Homo sapiens: one gene and its partner. The protein of the gene in region 1 interacts with the protein of each later gene in a biochemical or structural test. Each region holds a gene or a part of one and is shown in the gene's direction. Other genes may lie near its edges. The genes, in order: MITF and CLK4.

The links.
Region 2: the proteins of MITF (region 1) and CLK4 form a complex in vitro, tested with the Homo sapiens proteins (one study listed by BioGRID).

Annotation. Positions count from the first base shown.
Region 1 is NC_000003.12:69,734,945-69,742,551, forward strand, and holds the start of MITF (microphthalmia-associated transcription factor), read left to right. Parts: upstream 1-4,519; 5' UTR 4,520-4,653; coding exon 4,654-4,757; intron 4,758-7,607. UniProt on the Homo sapiens protein: Transcription factor that acts as a master regulator of melanocyte survival and differentiation as well as melanosome biogenesis.
Region 2 is NC_000005.10:178,616,985-178,624,262, reverse strand, and holds part of CLK4 (dual specificity protein kinase CLK4), read left to right. Parts: intron 1-846; coding exon 847-1,007; intron 1,008-5,484; coding exon 5,485-5,707; intron 5,708-6,828; coding exon 6,829-6,919; intron 6,920-7,278. UniProt on the Homo sapiens protein: Dual specificity kinase acting on both serine/threonine and tyrosine-containing substrates.

The DNA of each region.
Region 1 (7,607 bases):
CATAACCCATTTAAGAAATTGTTATGATAGTTTCCTCTCTCTTTTCTTTCTTACTTTATTTTTTAAAAAATGTTTGATCATGAAAATTTTCAAGCTTACACTAAAGTAGATAGAATAGTATAGTGAATTCCCATAACCTGTCACCTGGCTTCAACATTTTACCATTTACGTTTCATATTTCTTTTCCCATGCCTTTCTGGAGATAGAAGGAGAGGAGATGGGATATTTTATGACAGCTCCAAGACATCATATCATCTCACCCATACATACTTTATATGTATTTCTAACAGAAAGAGTATAAAAATGAGATAAGCATAATATACTTATCATACCTAATACAAATTAACAATACTTTTAAAATGTCATTCAATTCCAGCCCACGTTCAAACTCTCCCAGTTTTCCCCAGAATGAATTTTTACAATTGGTTTGTTTTAATCAGGGTCCAAATAAAGTCCACATAAGGTATTTCAGTGATATGTCTCTTTTTTCCTGTTTATTTATTTATTTATAATTTTTAGTAGATATGAGGTCCCTCTGTATTGCCCAGGCTTGTCTCAAACTCCTGGGATCAAGCAATTCTCCCACCTTGGCCTCCCAAAGTGCTGGGATTATAGGAATGAACCCCCAAGCCCAGCCTCTAATTCATTTTTTATTGATATATAATTCACATGCCTAATATGTCTCTTAAATCTTCTAAAGCCTTTACAAGTTCTTCCTTCCCCTTTATTTCATGCTATTTATTTTTTGAAGAATTTCTCAATGTCTTACAGAATTTTTAAATCTCTGGGTTGTCTGATTCTATTTTTGTGATGTTATTGACGTGGTCTTCTCTTGCATTTTTTTTCCTGTGAACTGGTGGTTAGACCTAGGGGCTTGATTACATTTAGTTTTCATATACCCTAGATTTTTTTTTTAAAAGATGGAGCTTAGTCACATCGCTTCCAGGAGTCTTAATATCCCGACCCCCAGTGGTTGCTCTTTTCTTAGACAATTGTAGTATTTATCTATCGCTCTTGTTATCCATTAAATCCTGCCCATTTCTACTCCTAAAAGGTCAAGGACCATGTCCTGTGTGCAGGGACCACATATGTGTCATCATTGCTATTTCCCCATACCTAGGGCACAATGTGCCTGGCACAGAGTGGATGCACCAAAAATAGCTGTTGAGCTAAGAGGATATGAGAGTACAAATCATACACTGGGTATCTGCTGCTTAGCATTGCTGCTTTATGTGTGGTTTCTCATTGTGTTACAAGCCTTGACTCAACTCATGGACTGGAAGCTTCATGAGGGGAGGGAGGAAGTCAAATATATTTTTGTATTCCAGGTACCTAACACATTGCCATGCCCATACCTTGCACATATTTAGTATAGAGTAAATGGGGAACCCTTGCCTATCCATCTCTGAAGGATTTTTGTGAGCTCAAATAAGAGATGTATGTGACAAGTGTATGTAAAAAGTAATGTATTACATAAATACATGTAATATTAATAACAACAATTATAATCTGTAGTCATTGCTTTTGTACATTTAATAGGCTCAGTCTTTAGTTTAAATGTATGGATCTATTGCCTGTTATCATCTATTTTTCAAAGTGGTACCTAACCCTAGGGCTTAACTCATTAATGAAGAGGGATTACAGGGTACATCTATCAGGTGGCCAGCTTTTGGTTATGTGGATTAATGGTATAGCAATCCACAGAAAATCATCCATTTAAAGGAGTGAAATATTTTTATGGTGATTATGCGAAGCTCTTGTGGTTGCAAGTGACAAAAAAATAGTTCTAGCAAAAAGGAATTTTTTTTTGTTCATATATCTAAAAAGTCCAAGGATATCTGACTTCAGGTATGGTTGGAACAAGGAAGTGAAACAATGTTGTCGTACTTTTCTATTCTTTATCTTTGCTTGTCTCTTCTTCTTTTTGTTGATCTTATCTCATTCTCTTCCATTTCAAATTAGCTTCCCTAATTGCCCATGGGTAAGTAGCTCCAGATTTTCTTCTTTCTAGCAAAGCAAACAGTCTTCTCCCATTGCCCTAGCAGAGAAGTCCTAAGGAGGACTTCTAGTCATCTCAAGGTCCCCTGTCCAGTCTTAAAGGAATCAGAATGCACTGGGTAGCAGACTGCACTGTAATGGATAACCCAGCCATATGTAATGGAAAATAAGTTTTCCTGAACAAGGAGTAGGATGAGACCAGAAGAAAAGGTATAGGAGAAAAAAATAACAGCTATCTGTGTGAACCTCAGGACAACCTCAGCTCAGAGGTCTGCACCCTGGAGACCTCTCTTGCGGGTGTACTTAGTTGAAGATGAATTCGGAGGTCTTGGTTTTCCTGAGTTTTCTTTCCTTTGAGGTTAGTCCCTTAGGTCTGGAAGGTCACTATTTGATGTAATAAGTGATGGGTAGACTGTTTCACTGCAGATCTAAAGAAGTTATAAACTGCAGTTGTAACATAAAGTCTGTGATAGCCTTCAGTGGGTCAGCTGACCAAAATTATGCACAGTTTTGTTTCTATCTGTATTTTCTGAGAAGAGGATCCGTAGCTTCCCTCAGATTAAAAAACTTCTGGTGAGCCCAAAGATTAGGCAGCTTCCCATGTTTCTCAATGGGGATACATACCACTGAAATTTGGACAAGAAAATTTGTTATTGTGCAATATGTGTAGTGTCTCTGGCCCATACCCCTTAAACGTCTGTAACATCCATAAGTTATTATGACAACCCCTCCTCCCATATTCCAAGCACTGATAATTGAGAGCCCAGATGAGATTAGAAGTCTAGACTGCATGTTTCCTTCATGTTTGATCTTTCTTCTTTCTCTCCCAGAGAACATGAAGGAAACACGTTTTCTTTGTTTGCTTTTGACAGCTAATTTCCAGCAGTCCATCTATTAAGGAATCTAGGATCCCACTTTTATGAGCACAAAACTCCCACTTTCCTTAGGGGTGTTCTCAGGTATTCTGACATAGTTTAATAGTTTCAGGGGAGGGCCTAAAAGTCGTATGTTGGGGACTAATTTTTATTCTGAAAATTTGGTAATTGCTACTGCAACATAGTGTGCCTTCTGCACTTTTTCCAAATCACCTTGAGAACTCCAGCCCTAACATCGATCCATCCTACTGGATGTCTTTTCTGATGTGAAATTAAAATGTTTCAGTGGGAGGCAAGATATGCAAAGGGGTAACTCCTGGGAGGTGCCCAGTTGTCACTGTAGCCTCTTTAGAATTTTCTCCTAGGACAGTCATTTAGTTTATTAATTCTGAAAGGCCAAACACCAAAATGAGATGTTAATCTGAAAGGAATAACTTCAAGACCTAATAAAGAATGACCACTGAGCAGAGTTTTTATAGATTGCAAATCACTTTCTCTTACATTTGACCTTGCAACATCTTCTAAAACTGGTTTGCCAATCTCTTCTTTTATGGATGAAGAAATGGAGGCTTCTAGGAACCAAGTGACATGCTCAGGATTGCACAGCTCTTCTTAGAAGGACTGGGGATTTCAACTCTGAGTCTTATACCTTTAAATGCCACTGTAACTCTATACTGCCTCCCTGATGCCTCAAAACACTTTTGAAAAGAAGGAACACGTCCTACTGGAGCTAATCAGAGGGAAGAACTAGAAGTACAAATGAGCCACAACGGAGAGTTTTAAAATTCTCTTCCCTAAGTGAGTTCCGGGAAGCTCGGGAAGGGGTGGACACTTGTACAGTTCACTTGTACATCTTCACTCCTGAAATGCTAGGACAAATCTCATTTGAACTCCCAGTCAACTGAGAAATTAAAAGCAGAGAGCAACGACGCTATTTTGTAACTTTGTGCCTTTTAAAATTAACCGAATCTTTCAATTGCTGCTGTAGATTAGAAGTGGCTACTTGGATAAAGGGGAAAGAGCCATTCAACTGATGAATACTATTGTAAAAGTCCAGACTTAGTTCTAGAAAAGGAACGCACAAGAACAATTTCTCCAATAACGTTTTCATTACAGAGCGAAGGAAAGTTCTTCCTCGTTGTTCCAATCCGAGGACAAGCTGATATGTCGCAGCAGCCCAGGGAAGCATGCGAGCTGATAGGAAGTCCTTTTATTTTAAGACAGGCTCGAATGCTAAAACTTTCTTGTGCCAAAACCCTTGACTATTTTATTTTTAAAATAAGCACTTGGCGTGCCCTCGCAGATGTCTGAGCTGAGAGGTCGGGGCGATGGTAGAAGAGCAGTCAGTGTCCATTCTTATTCATATTAAGTAGCCAAGTCTGTACCCTTGAAGCAAGTGGGGAGAGAGGAGGGAGAGGAGCTGCTGACATTGACAATGAATCCAAACAGGAGTTGCACTAGCGGTGTCCACCACGTTGCCTCTCCCCCGCCTGGCCTTCTGGGAGCTGTAGTTTTCGTGGGAGCGGCTCCCCAGGCGAGCTGGGAATGCCCCGCCCGGGCCGAACTACAGATCCCAGGCGGCGCTCGGCCGCCAGCCCCTCCCGCCCGGGTGCGAGTGTAAACTCCCCGCGCTGGGGCGGGCGGCCGCGAGCCGGCGAGCGGGCAGAGCTCGGCACTGCGCCGGGGCGCACGGCTCGGGGGACCCAGGCCCAGCTACCTTCCCTCCGCCCCCGGGCTCTGTTCTCACTTTCCAGCAGTGGAAGGACGGGAAGCGGGAGCCATGCAGTCCGAATCGGGGATCGTGCCGGATTTCGAAGTCGGGGAGGAGTTTCATGAAGAGCCCAAAACCTATTACGAACTCAAAAGTCAACCGCTGAAGAGCAGGTGAGTGGTGACAGCTGGGCAGAGGCGCACCGGGCGGCTGGGGGGCACTGCGTCTGCCACTCTGGGGCGAGGAGAGCGGGTCGCGGGAGCTCTGGGACAAGGACCCAGTGCCCTTGCCCCGGAGCAGAGGGCGAACTGCCCCTCGCAGTTGGGGGCCGCGCCTGCCCGGCCCAAGTGCGCCTTTAGGAAGCTCGGATGGAGCGCACTTCGCGGGGGCGCGGCGGGTCGCCGGGGACGAAGCGTCCAGGCGCGGGGACCCTCGGCCGAGGATGCCAGCTGCTGAGACTGATTGGGGGCTGGGGAGCGACCTGGCGCGATGTGGGGGAGGAGGAGCGCCGGGCCGGGACGCTGTCCCGGTGGGATGGGGGAGAAAGAGTTCTAGTGAACCCCCTTTCTGAAGATCCCAGCGGGTTGAGGGCTCGGAGAGGGAGAGCTTTGGGTGGACTGAGATGCGACATTGGAGGGAAGCAATTAGTTCGCTTGGAGTCACCTCTTGGGAGTCCGGTCTCTGTGGGGAAACTAGCCTCTGGGCTCCTGCAGGTGAGGTTTCTCTGGGCTCCGCCTCTCACCTCCAGACCGCTGCTAGCGGGCGCGGGAGGGGCCAGGGCAGCGGTGGGCGTGTCCCCTTGTTCAAGTTAAACTCTCTGGAAATAGAGTCCCATTCAAATCCAGGCCTTACCTGCAGAGGGGAAATGAGCCTTGGTCTTGGGGGTTACTGGGAGTGTACCCCGCTTGGCAGAGACACGTGTTTAATTCGCTGGGGACTTCAGAAACTTTTTAGACGAGGAGTGAAGACATCCACTGCTCTGATGCCCCATCCCCTCTAGTGCCCACTTCCCTTGAGCCACCCTTTTTGCTGCCTCCATTCCCACTTGTCTGTCGAAATGGATTGGGTGTCTTCCGTTCTCTCTGTCCGGCAGCCACTCTGGACGCCTCGTACTTCTCGTTTACAATGTTTCCTAAAAGGGACATGGTCAATGGAGGCTGGAATAGCTGAGAAGGGTTTATTTCCACCCCTCTAAGCTGTGAGCTAGGATAAGGCTATCATTGGAAGCATCCAGCAGGGCTTCTGCACTCGGCTGTAACTTCCTGCCTTGCCCTTCGCTGTGGATGGGGCCTGGGTGAATGGGCCTGGCTGGCAGAGTGGGAGAGGGTCTTGAAATGAGGGTGAGTGGAGAAGGGCAACTGAACGGGGAGCCAAGTGGTGTAATCTTGGCCTCTGGCGAGCACTGGGCTGGTTCTTTTTCTAGTGGAAAGTGCAGCCAGGTTTATTTCCTTCAGGGCTGTGGCAGGACTCTTTATCCAAGTTGGGGAAGAAAATCTGGGAACAGCGGTCCTACTGACTGCCATTGCTGAAGACTCTTTGTAGATGCTTCACGGCAGATTGGAAGGAAACCGCCTAAGCAGTTGGACGTATAAAACCAGCCTTTAGTTGGTGGTTTTTCCTCATAATGGCTGTTTTGTGTGTGAGCATAGATTGTGTGTGTTGGGGGCTGGGGGTTTTGAGTAATATTGTGTGAAGGGTATTGTTGGTTATGCTCATCAGGGCTTTATCTGCATTCGGCTGAAGGGACCAGTGTTTTACTGGGCAGTCTCTGCTTTTGCTTCTATAAGCAAATGCTTACACGGCCAGAATGAGGGAATGAGTGTGTGTGTGGAATCCTGAAAGAAATAAATTAACCGGACTGTTTGGAACATTTCTGATGGTAGCTGATACATAACATTAAATCAGTTTGAGAGAGCGAGGAAAATACCATCTGGAAAAACCCAAATGAGTGCCGTGAAACTCATGTTGCACGATTTGGGCCTGTTCTTTTTCAGAGTCAGCAAAAAAGACTTGTAAGGGTGAACGTCCTCAGTAGCTAGCTAGCAGGCACGTGTAAGGGAAAATGTGGGTATGTGGGAAGAAATGGCTTCACACGTTAATGCTAGAAACAGGTGTGGGCCTGAACCAGCAGGGAAAGGAAGGCTAAATTAAAAAAGTTGTTGTAAAACTTGTATATGGAGCACACACATGCTCTTTGAAATAAACCAGTTAAATAAAATCTGTGAATAAATATATGGAGTTGGCAACATTTCTCTATACTGTTTTCCACAGTTGTCTAAGGTATTGTCGTCGACATCTGTTGTGTGACTTAAAAGGGCTGCACATTGTTCAGGGCCTTCTCTCTCATTGCTTTTTGTCTTATGTTTTTGCTGGGGCACCTCACTTCTTACAAGTCTTTGTCGGAAAAAGTTGAAATTGATATGTGAAGACTGCTGTAGCCGTTCTGCCTATCAACTGTCTTCTCTGGATTGTCCAGAGTTGTTAGAGTTGAAAATATGTCCAGAATCTGCCCGCTTCTTACCACCTCCTCTGCTACCACTTTGGTCCAAGCCACCATCAGCCCTTGCCTGGATTATTGCAGTAGTCTTTTAAACTGCAATACCCACATTTAGTGAATTTTCAGTATAGTAGCCACAATGTTCCTGTTAAAACTGGTTCTCAGTTGGAGGTGATTTTGCCCCTGGGGTCATTTGACAGTGTCTGGAGACATTTGTGATTGTTACAGTGGAAGGGATCATTACCCATATCTAGTAGGTGGAGGCCAGAGATGCTGCTAAACATCTTACAGTGCACAGGACAGCCCCCACAACAAAGGATTATCTGGTCCCAAATTGTTAGTAGTGCTGAGGTCAAGCAACTCTGTGTTAAACCTCAAGTCAGATCCTGTCATTCTCTGCCCAGAACCTGCCCATGGCTCCTAATTTCTCCCAGTAAAATTCAAGGTTCTTAAGATGTCAGCTCTGACCTTATCTCTTGTTGCCTGCCTCCTACCTCCCTCTGCTACAGCCAGGCTGGTCTCCTCA
Region 2 (7,278 bases), on another chromosome or scaffold:
AGACTCCTGGGCTTGGCCTCCCAAAATTCTGGGATTACAGGCATGAGCCACCGTACCCGGCCTAAAATCACCTTTTTATATCTCTTCAGTTTCTCTGTTGAATATTGTGTTCTATCCACACAGAACTAATATTCTCAAAGCTTAGAGTCATTCTGAGATTTAGAGAAAAGAACTATGGAGAATTTGAGAAAAAGAAGCTTCATCATTGAATAGCTCTTTACCATTAAAACAAAGTCACCTCCCATATTTAGTATCCCTAAGTGTTTTTGTCTTGCACTTCAGTTATTTGTATTACAGTACTTTGCCAAAGCTGCATGACACTGATATTATTTCTCCTTAAATCAGCTCACATTTTAATGTTAACATTTTTAAAAGAAAATATGTCAATAACTTAATTGGAAAATCACTAATAAGTAGAAAGTAACAAAATAAGATAAATAAAAACGTTACTAATTTTTAGCTAAATACTCTTGTCTGCTGGAAACACTAGGCCTGAACCTTTTTATTTGCCCCCCCCGGCTTTTTTTTAATTTTTAAAAAGGCAGTTAGCAAGTGTTAGTTGAAGACAAGCACCAAGCTGAGAATTTGTCCTGGCTGTAATCAGAATTCAAAAAAAAAAAATGTCTTAAGGTATCAGTATTACCCACAATTTAATACTAGATCTCTATGCCTCTTAGCAGTCATCTGACATACCAGTGCCTTGGGAAGCATTACCACCTAAAAAGATTTTGGAGCCTGTAAGACCCTGTGTGTTGGGTTTTGATAACTTAAATAATATTAATATATAATAATTTACCTATCACACATCTGTAACCTCCACAATTCCCTTTTCATTTCTATCAACAGATGCGGCATTCCAAAAGAACTCACTGTCCTGATTGGGATAGCAGAGAAAGCTGGGGACATGAAAGCTATCGTGGAAGTCACAAGCGGAAGAGGAGATCTCATAGTAGCACACAAGAGAACAGGCATTGTAAACCACATCACCAGTTTAAAGAATCTGATTGGTAAATTAACTCTTGAACTACTAGCATTTTAGCTCTAATAGTTTTAAATGATTTGTCATTTGCTTATATAGCTTTCATCTGTCAAATTGTTTTATAATTCAGTCAACAAATATTCGTTTAGAAAATATTTGAGTACTTATTTTAGATAGGCGCTGAGGCTACAGCTGTAAATAAAACAAAGTTCTTATCCTTATGTATGTCTGTCTGCCTGGGAGTGGTAGGAGACAGTTGATCAGTAAGTGAATGTGAAATGTATTAAATAACATGGTGAGTCCCAACTGCCAGTAACGTGATTAGGGAGATGACACACAAAAAGTTAAGTAATAGTGATAGAATGCCCAATGAGTACCTTTAACTTGTATGTAGGAGGGAGATGGGTATGTTGTAGTGCTCATTGTTTCAGAAATAAGGTAGGGTTTTATAGGGGAGGAGTTATTCCAACAGAGAAAAGCAGCATGTATTATTAGTCACTTATACCATGTCGTACAGGTTATATTTGTAGATGAGGCCAAGGGATATGTTTGGGATTTTTAGAAGCTGGCTTTATTTAAGAACTATTCTTTTGCATAGGTAGTAGCTAGTAATTTGGGAAATGGCCTCAATAAAAACTTGCAACAGCATGTGTGCTGTTTTATTGTATTCTTACCAGTGTACAATTTGGAGGTAATATATTTATATAGAATTAAAGGAATCTTAAAGTTCTAAATGATTAAAGAAAGGCTAGGTAAGTTTTCACTCTTTCATTAATTTCCCTTTTTCGTTTGTTTTGTTGGTTCTGTTTTCTCGTTTTGTGCAGATGTTCCATTGGGACTGTTTACCAGATTGCTTTCTAAATTAGCCAGCTGGGGTTACTTTAAAAAACAGTATGTAATTTCTTTCCTTCTCCACGTTAACAGACTTGTTCTGCCAAACAGCTTATTTGTAGTCAGTGCAGACAAATCATGCTTCATACGCATTGTTATATAAGGGGAAGGGGGAAGGTTTATGACAGGATTTCAGAGACCAGAGATAATTAATAATTAATGTACAGTACACTAAAAAAAACCATCTGTACCCCACTATTAATAAATACAAAAAACCCTAAGGCTTAACGTCATAGTACTGGTTATTCATAGGATAATTATACGTTGTATATATAGAAAGGAAGTGATATGAGTGATGAACAGTTCATTTGTGCTCATAGTTAACTACGTAAACATGATACTGAGTCCAGTTAACCACCAGGCCAGTGCCTGCTTTGATATTTGTACCAGATGTGTTTGGTGGTCAGCGTTTACCATGATCCAGAATATTCTAATTTTTGAAGGTCAAAAACTTTGAGTGTTTTTATAAAATAACAAAAAACTGAAAAATGCAGAAAAGTATAAAGATGGTAATCTCTGTAGGAAATTAGTCCCCATTATTTAGCTGTAAAATTATAATTAAAAAAAAAATCTTTGTTTCTAAATCTTTGCCACTGATTATTTCCTGAAAATACACTCCAGGAAGAAGCATTTTTAAGTTAAAGCATGTGAACTCTTATTTCTTGCTACAGGTTCATATTTCTTTTTCTAGAGAGTTTGCCAAATTATACAACGTGCTCCTTCATGCTCTCACCAATCTTGGCTGTTTTGAAAGGCCAAGCATAATGTTTTGATTAAACTGAATTTTTAAATTTCTAACGAATTTGTCCGCTGTCATATATTTATTGATCATTTGAACATCTTTTTATTCTTAGCCTATTTATTAAAGTATTTTTATTGATTTAGAAGAGCTTTTTATTACAATATTTTAACCATTTGTCATATATATATTGCATAGTGTCTTTTCTTTATGATTTGTCTTTTGGAGGTAGCCTGTGAATTGGTCTCCCTTTCTACAGGCTTAGTTAATCCATTCTGCATTAGAAAGACTGATGTGGCTGTAAACCCTACCTTTATATATTGTGGTCAGAAGCCTGTAACATAAAGTATCAAGTCTTAAACCAGTGATTCTCCAACTTTAGTGTGAATAAGAATCACCTTGGAGGTATGCTGACCAGATTTACAGTCAGTGAGTATGACCTAAGGCCCAGGGTTACCATTTTTAATAAGAACTCCATATTTGATACTGTTGATAAATAGACCGTCCTTTGAGAAATAATACTCTTTAGCCTAGCACGCAGGGTTTTTAATGATGCTATTCTCAGCTTACTTATTTGTCTACATTCCCCTATGTGAAAATTGCTCTTGCTGGGATTGTCTTTTTCCTGAGTAATGCATAGACAATTCCATCTCTAAGCCATTGTGGCTAAAAGTGCCATATGAATTTAAGATGGTAATATGCCATTCTTCTCCCCCGGAATTTCTTCTGTATTCTACTTTTTCCAAATCCTGGCTTCCCTTTAAGATGCAACTCTATTTCCATCTTTTTTGTAATTATTCTCTGACCATTTTAAACAGATTTTTTCCCCCATCTCTGACTCTAAGCACTCATGTGTTGTAACCTTTTAGAATTTCCTACATTGTTGGATTTTGTTTCATTTTTATGTGAGTAATCTCAAATTGTTCATTATTTGTTGGCAGGGACTTTGCCTTATATAATTTTTTTTTTATCTCCCACAGGACCTGTGTGGATATAAAAACGAATGCCCTTACCCTCATCCGTCTTGGCTATTTGAAAGGCTATAGTGAAATATTCACTGGGCATTCAGTGGATATTTTAAAAAATTAAATCAGTCTGTTCATCCTGTCTACCCTGTCCATAGCCTGTGTAATTCTGTAGACTTTGTTTATATAATCTCTCAGCCTTGGTCATTGGCCATTATCTATTGAAGAGACTCTCATCCTTTTAGTTTGTCCTCATGGTGTTCACTCCATGTTTTGTTACTCTATACGTTGTTTATGGCTTAGCAGCTCTAATTCCATGCAGTATTCCAGCTAAAGATTGTTAGTGCTAGTTTTTTCTAATAGAAGGATTTTGGACTTTTATGGGAAGGATGCCCTTAAGAGTATGGTCACGTCTAGCTTATTGTATTGGTGATCTCTCCCTGACAGTTCCAAGCCAACTGATCAGATATCTGACCTAGACTACCCACAGTCTTACCCAAATATCCTGAGTTGTTTCTCCAATAAATACAACTTAAAGCTGATGCTAGGGAAAGAGAACCGGGTTTCTGTATCTCCCCAGCCTGGATTTGATGCTAGCCCTATTGGGTAGTAGTTGTAAAGATGCTTCTATTTCTGCCTAAACCAGCCCCCTGGGAAAAAGAATGACAGCATATTCTGGGGAAAGGAAAGGGGTTGGTGAGGGCAATCTAGTCAACATCCGTCACTCCATTGCTTGTTAGGCTTATTTTAGCCGATGTGTCTGACTGGGCAGGTGTCCCCTCTCTCCCTCAGTGCTCCATGTGCATCCCTCTTGAAGCTTCGCACTCTGTTGAAGAGGACACTCATCCCAGGTAGAGAGGGGGACGGGAAACTGGGCCAATTGAATCTATGTCCTTTTCTTTCCATCAGATCAAGGCCACTTAACTGGGATCCATTGACATCCTGAGGCCCATGACCTTTGAAATTCCTTGCCAAGTTTTGTTTATGTGTTTCTTAGGAAAGAGAGTCCATGGCTTTCAGCAGATTTTCAAAGGGATCTCTAGATTAAAGCACGATGGCACTAGATGATGGTGTTTTCTGTTGTTTCTTAGGTATTTCTCAAACAGGAATGACAGGAAATTAGAAATGCAAAGGGAAGTAGGGTGGTGGAACTATTGTAATGCTAAACTACAGGATCCCTTTCTTATTTTAGGGGGATATATTTTAGATGCCTTTGGCACATGAGGCAGTCCTCAAAAGCTATGTTTTCTATTTCTCAAACAGGAATAACAAGGCTAGAAATGCAAAGAGTAGAGGAGACATGATAGATGCTGTGTGTAATAAAATTGGCCTGTATAATAGTGGTTTGAAAATATTTTAGTTTTTGTCACTAATGTTGTTATACAACCTTGGTAAATCATTTTTCTTCTAGGGATCTTAATGTAGTCGTCGGTAAAATGAAAGGGCTGGAATACATTTAAGGCTCCTTATAGCTCTAATATACCTTTCATGAAGGAATTCTCTCTGTGCCAGGGATATCTAAAATGCTCTTACATTACAAGAGAAAGGAATCCTTTTTGCCTGCCTCTGATTGTACCTCTGTGAGAGACTAAGACAGCTTAGATACAGGTGCAGAAGGTAAAGGAACACTTAATCAAGTAAACACTAGACATGAATTAATGATTTGACTCAAGCTTTATTCCTTGGTGTGAAGTGCTTGACAGCAAACTCTATAATGGGCCCATTTGCTTGTTTGTTAAAGTAAAATTATTTCTTAAGCTTTATGAGATAAATATAAATGCTAATTCATCTGTTTGAATTTTTTTCTTATATTGAGTTAGCTGTTTAAGAATTTCTGAGAAAATGTTTTGTTTGAACCACATTATTGCAGAATGAAGAGAATAATTTGAAATCTTTTAATGTGTTTGCAGTCATTATTTAGAAGCAAGGTCCTTGAATGAGCGAGATTATCGGGACCGGAGATACGTTGACGAATACAGGAATGACTACTGTGAAGGATATGTTCCTAGACATTATCACAGAGACATTGAAAGCGGGTATCGAATCCACTGCAGTAAATCTTCAGTCCGCAGCAGGAGAAGCAGTCCTAAAAGGAAGCGCAATAGACACTGTTCAAGTCATCAGTCACGTTCGGTATGATTGGTTTTGTTTTCAATTTGAGTGGAGTTTTATTTGTGTGTACTCTTAACGAGCTGATAAGTTTCTAATTTTTTATATATATATATATAAAATACTATTTGGATATATTATAATTGTATTTATATTACTTAAATCCTTAAAGGAAACCTCCAAATTCTTGTAGCTGATCTGTATATTTATTAGCTAGCCCTCATTTGCCCACATTTCCTCATATTCTGCAGACCAGATAATGAGTTTATTGATTTTAATAATAAAACTATTTTTTTATTTGTAACATATTCTTATGAAAAAATCATGCACCCATATCTTTTCTTTCATCTTAAGCATTTTTTTTTTCTTAGAAACCCTTTATCTGGTACTTGAAAATAAATGTGAAATATTGCACTGGTGGACACCTGAATGTTACTAACCTGCATAGAGCATAGTTCCATAGTCCAGTGCATCATTGTCTGCAATGAATTCTTTTGAAGTTGTGAAAATGGGTGCTGAATGGGAAACATCCAAAAAGTCTGCCCCCCCCTTTTTTTTTTTAACACTCAGACATCTTCACCTGCTTGAACAGTGAACTTTGAATTAGTTTCTCCCCAAGTTTTCTTCAGTAAAACTAGTTTTTATTAGATTGAACATTGAAATTAACTAGCCTTTATTTTCCCCTTTTATTTTAATCATGTATATTTTAAAATATTGCTAAATTAGAATAATTTCAAATAGTCTTGACATTTTAAAACATTTTTCTGAAAAACTAGACATCTCAATTCACAGCATATGCTGTTTATAGCAAGAGATAAGTAAATCATGACATTGCATTCTTTAAATTTCAGACTTCAATTAAATCAGTATTTTAAAGAGACAATTGTGTTGTTTTTTTCTATTGCCACTTTAAGTATCTTATCTGAAAATCTGTTCCTTGCCATGTTTTTCTTCTGTAACATAAACTGTGCCCTGTGAATTTCTGGGGACTGAATTTGAAATTGCTCCTGCCAACTGTTCGTGGCCTGGTGCTTATCTGAATGCCTGAATATCTCCCCGCTGAATGAATTGCGTATTCTGCCCTGAATTCACTCTGATATATTGATTGGCTGGACGATCTTGGTGCTGCCCACTTGCCGTTCCAGAAGAGCCACCGAAGGAAAAGATCCAGGAGTATAGAGGATGATGAGGAGGGTCACCTGATCTGTCAAAGTGGAGACGTTCTAAGAGCAAGATGTATAGAATATTTTTCAACACTTTTTAAACTTTGCAGAAAGAATAATCTTTTTAAGAATAGTTTGTCAGCGGGGGGCTAAAGAACTCTTCATTGCTTTTTTATTTTGCTTTTTGTGGGTTTGTTTGTTCTTTTATATTTCTTCTTTTCTGTAGAATTTAAATATTTCTATTCTAAAGTTCCAAAATAATCAGTGGAATTTGAGATTAGAGCAAGAAAGATAGCTCTATCTAATTGTTTTTGTAGCAGCTGAAACTAAAATAATTTGAGTGCTGAAACCTTAGTTATGCTTTGTTAGAGATCATTTGAAAATATTCCACACTTAAGCATTCATTGTTTGAAGAACTAGACAGTTTGTACT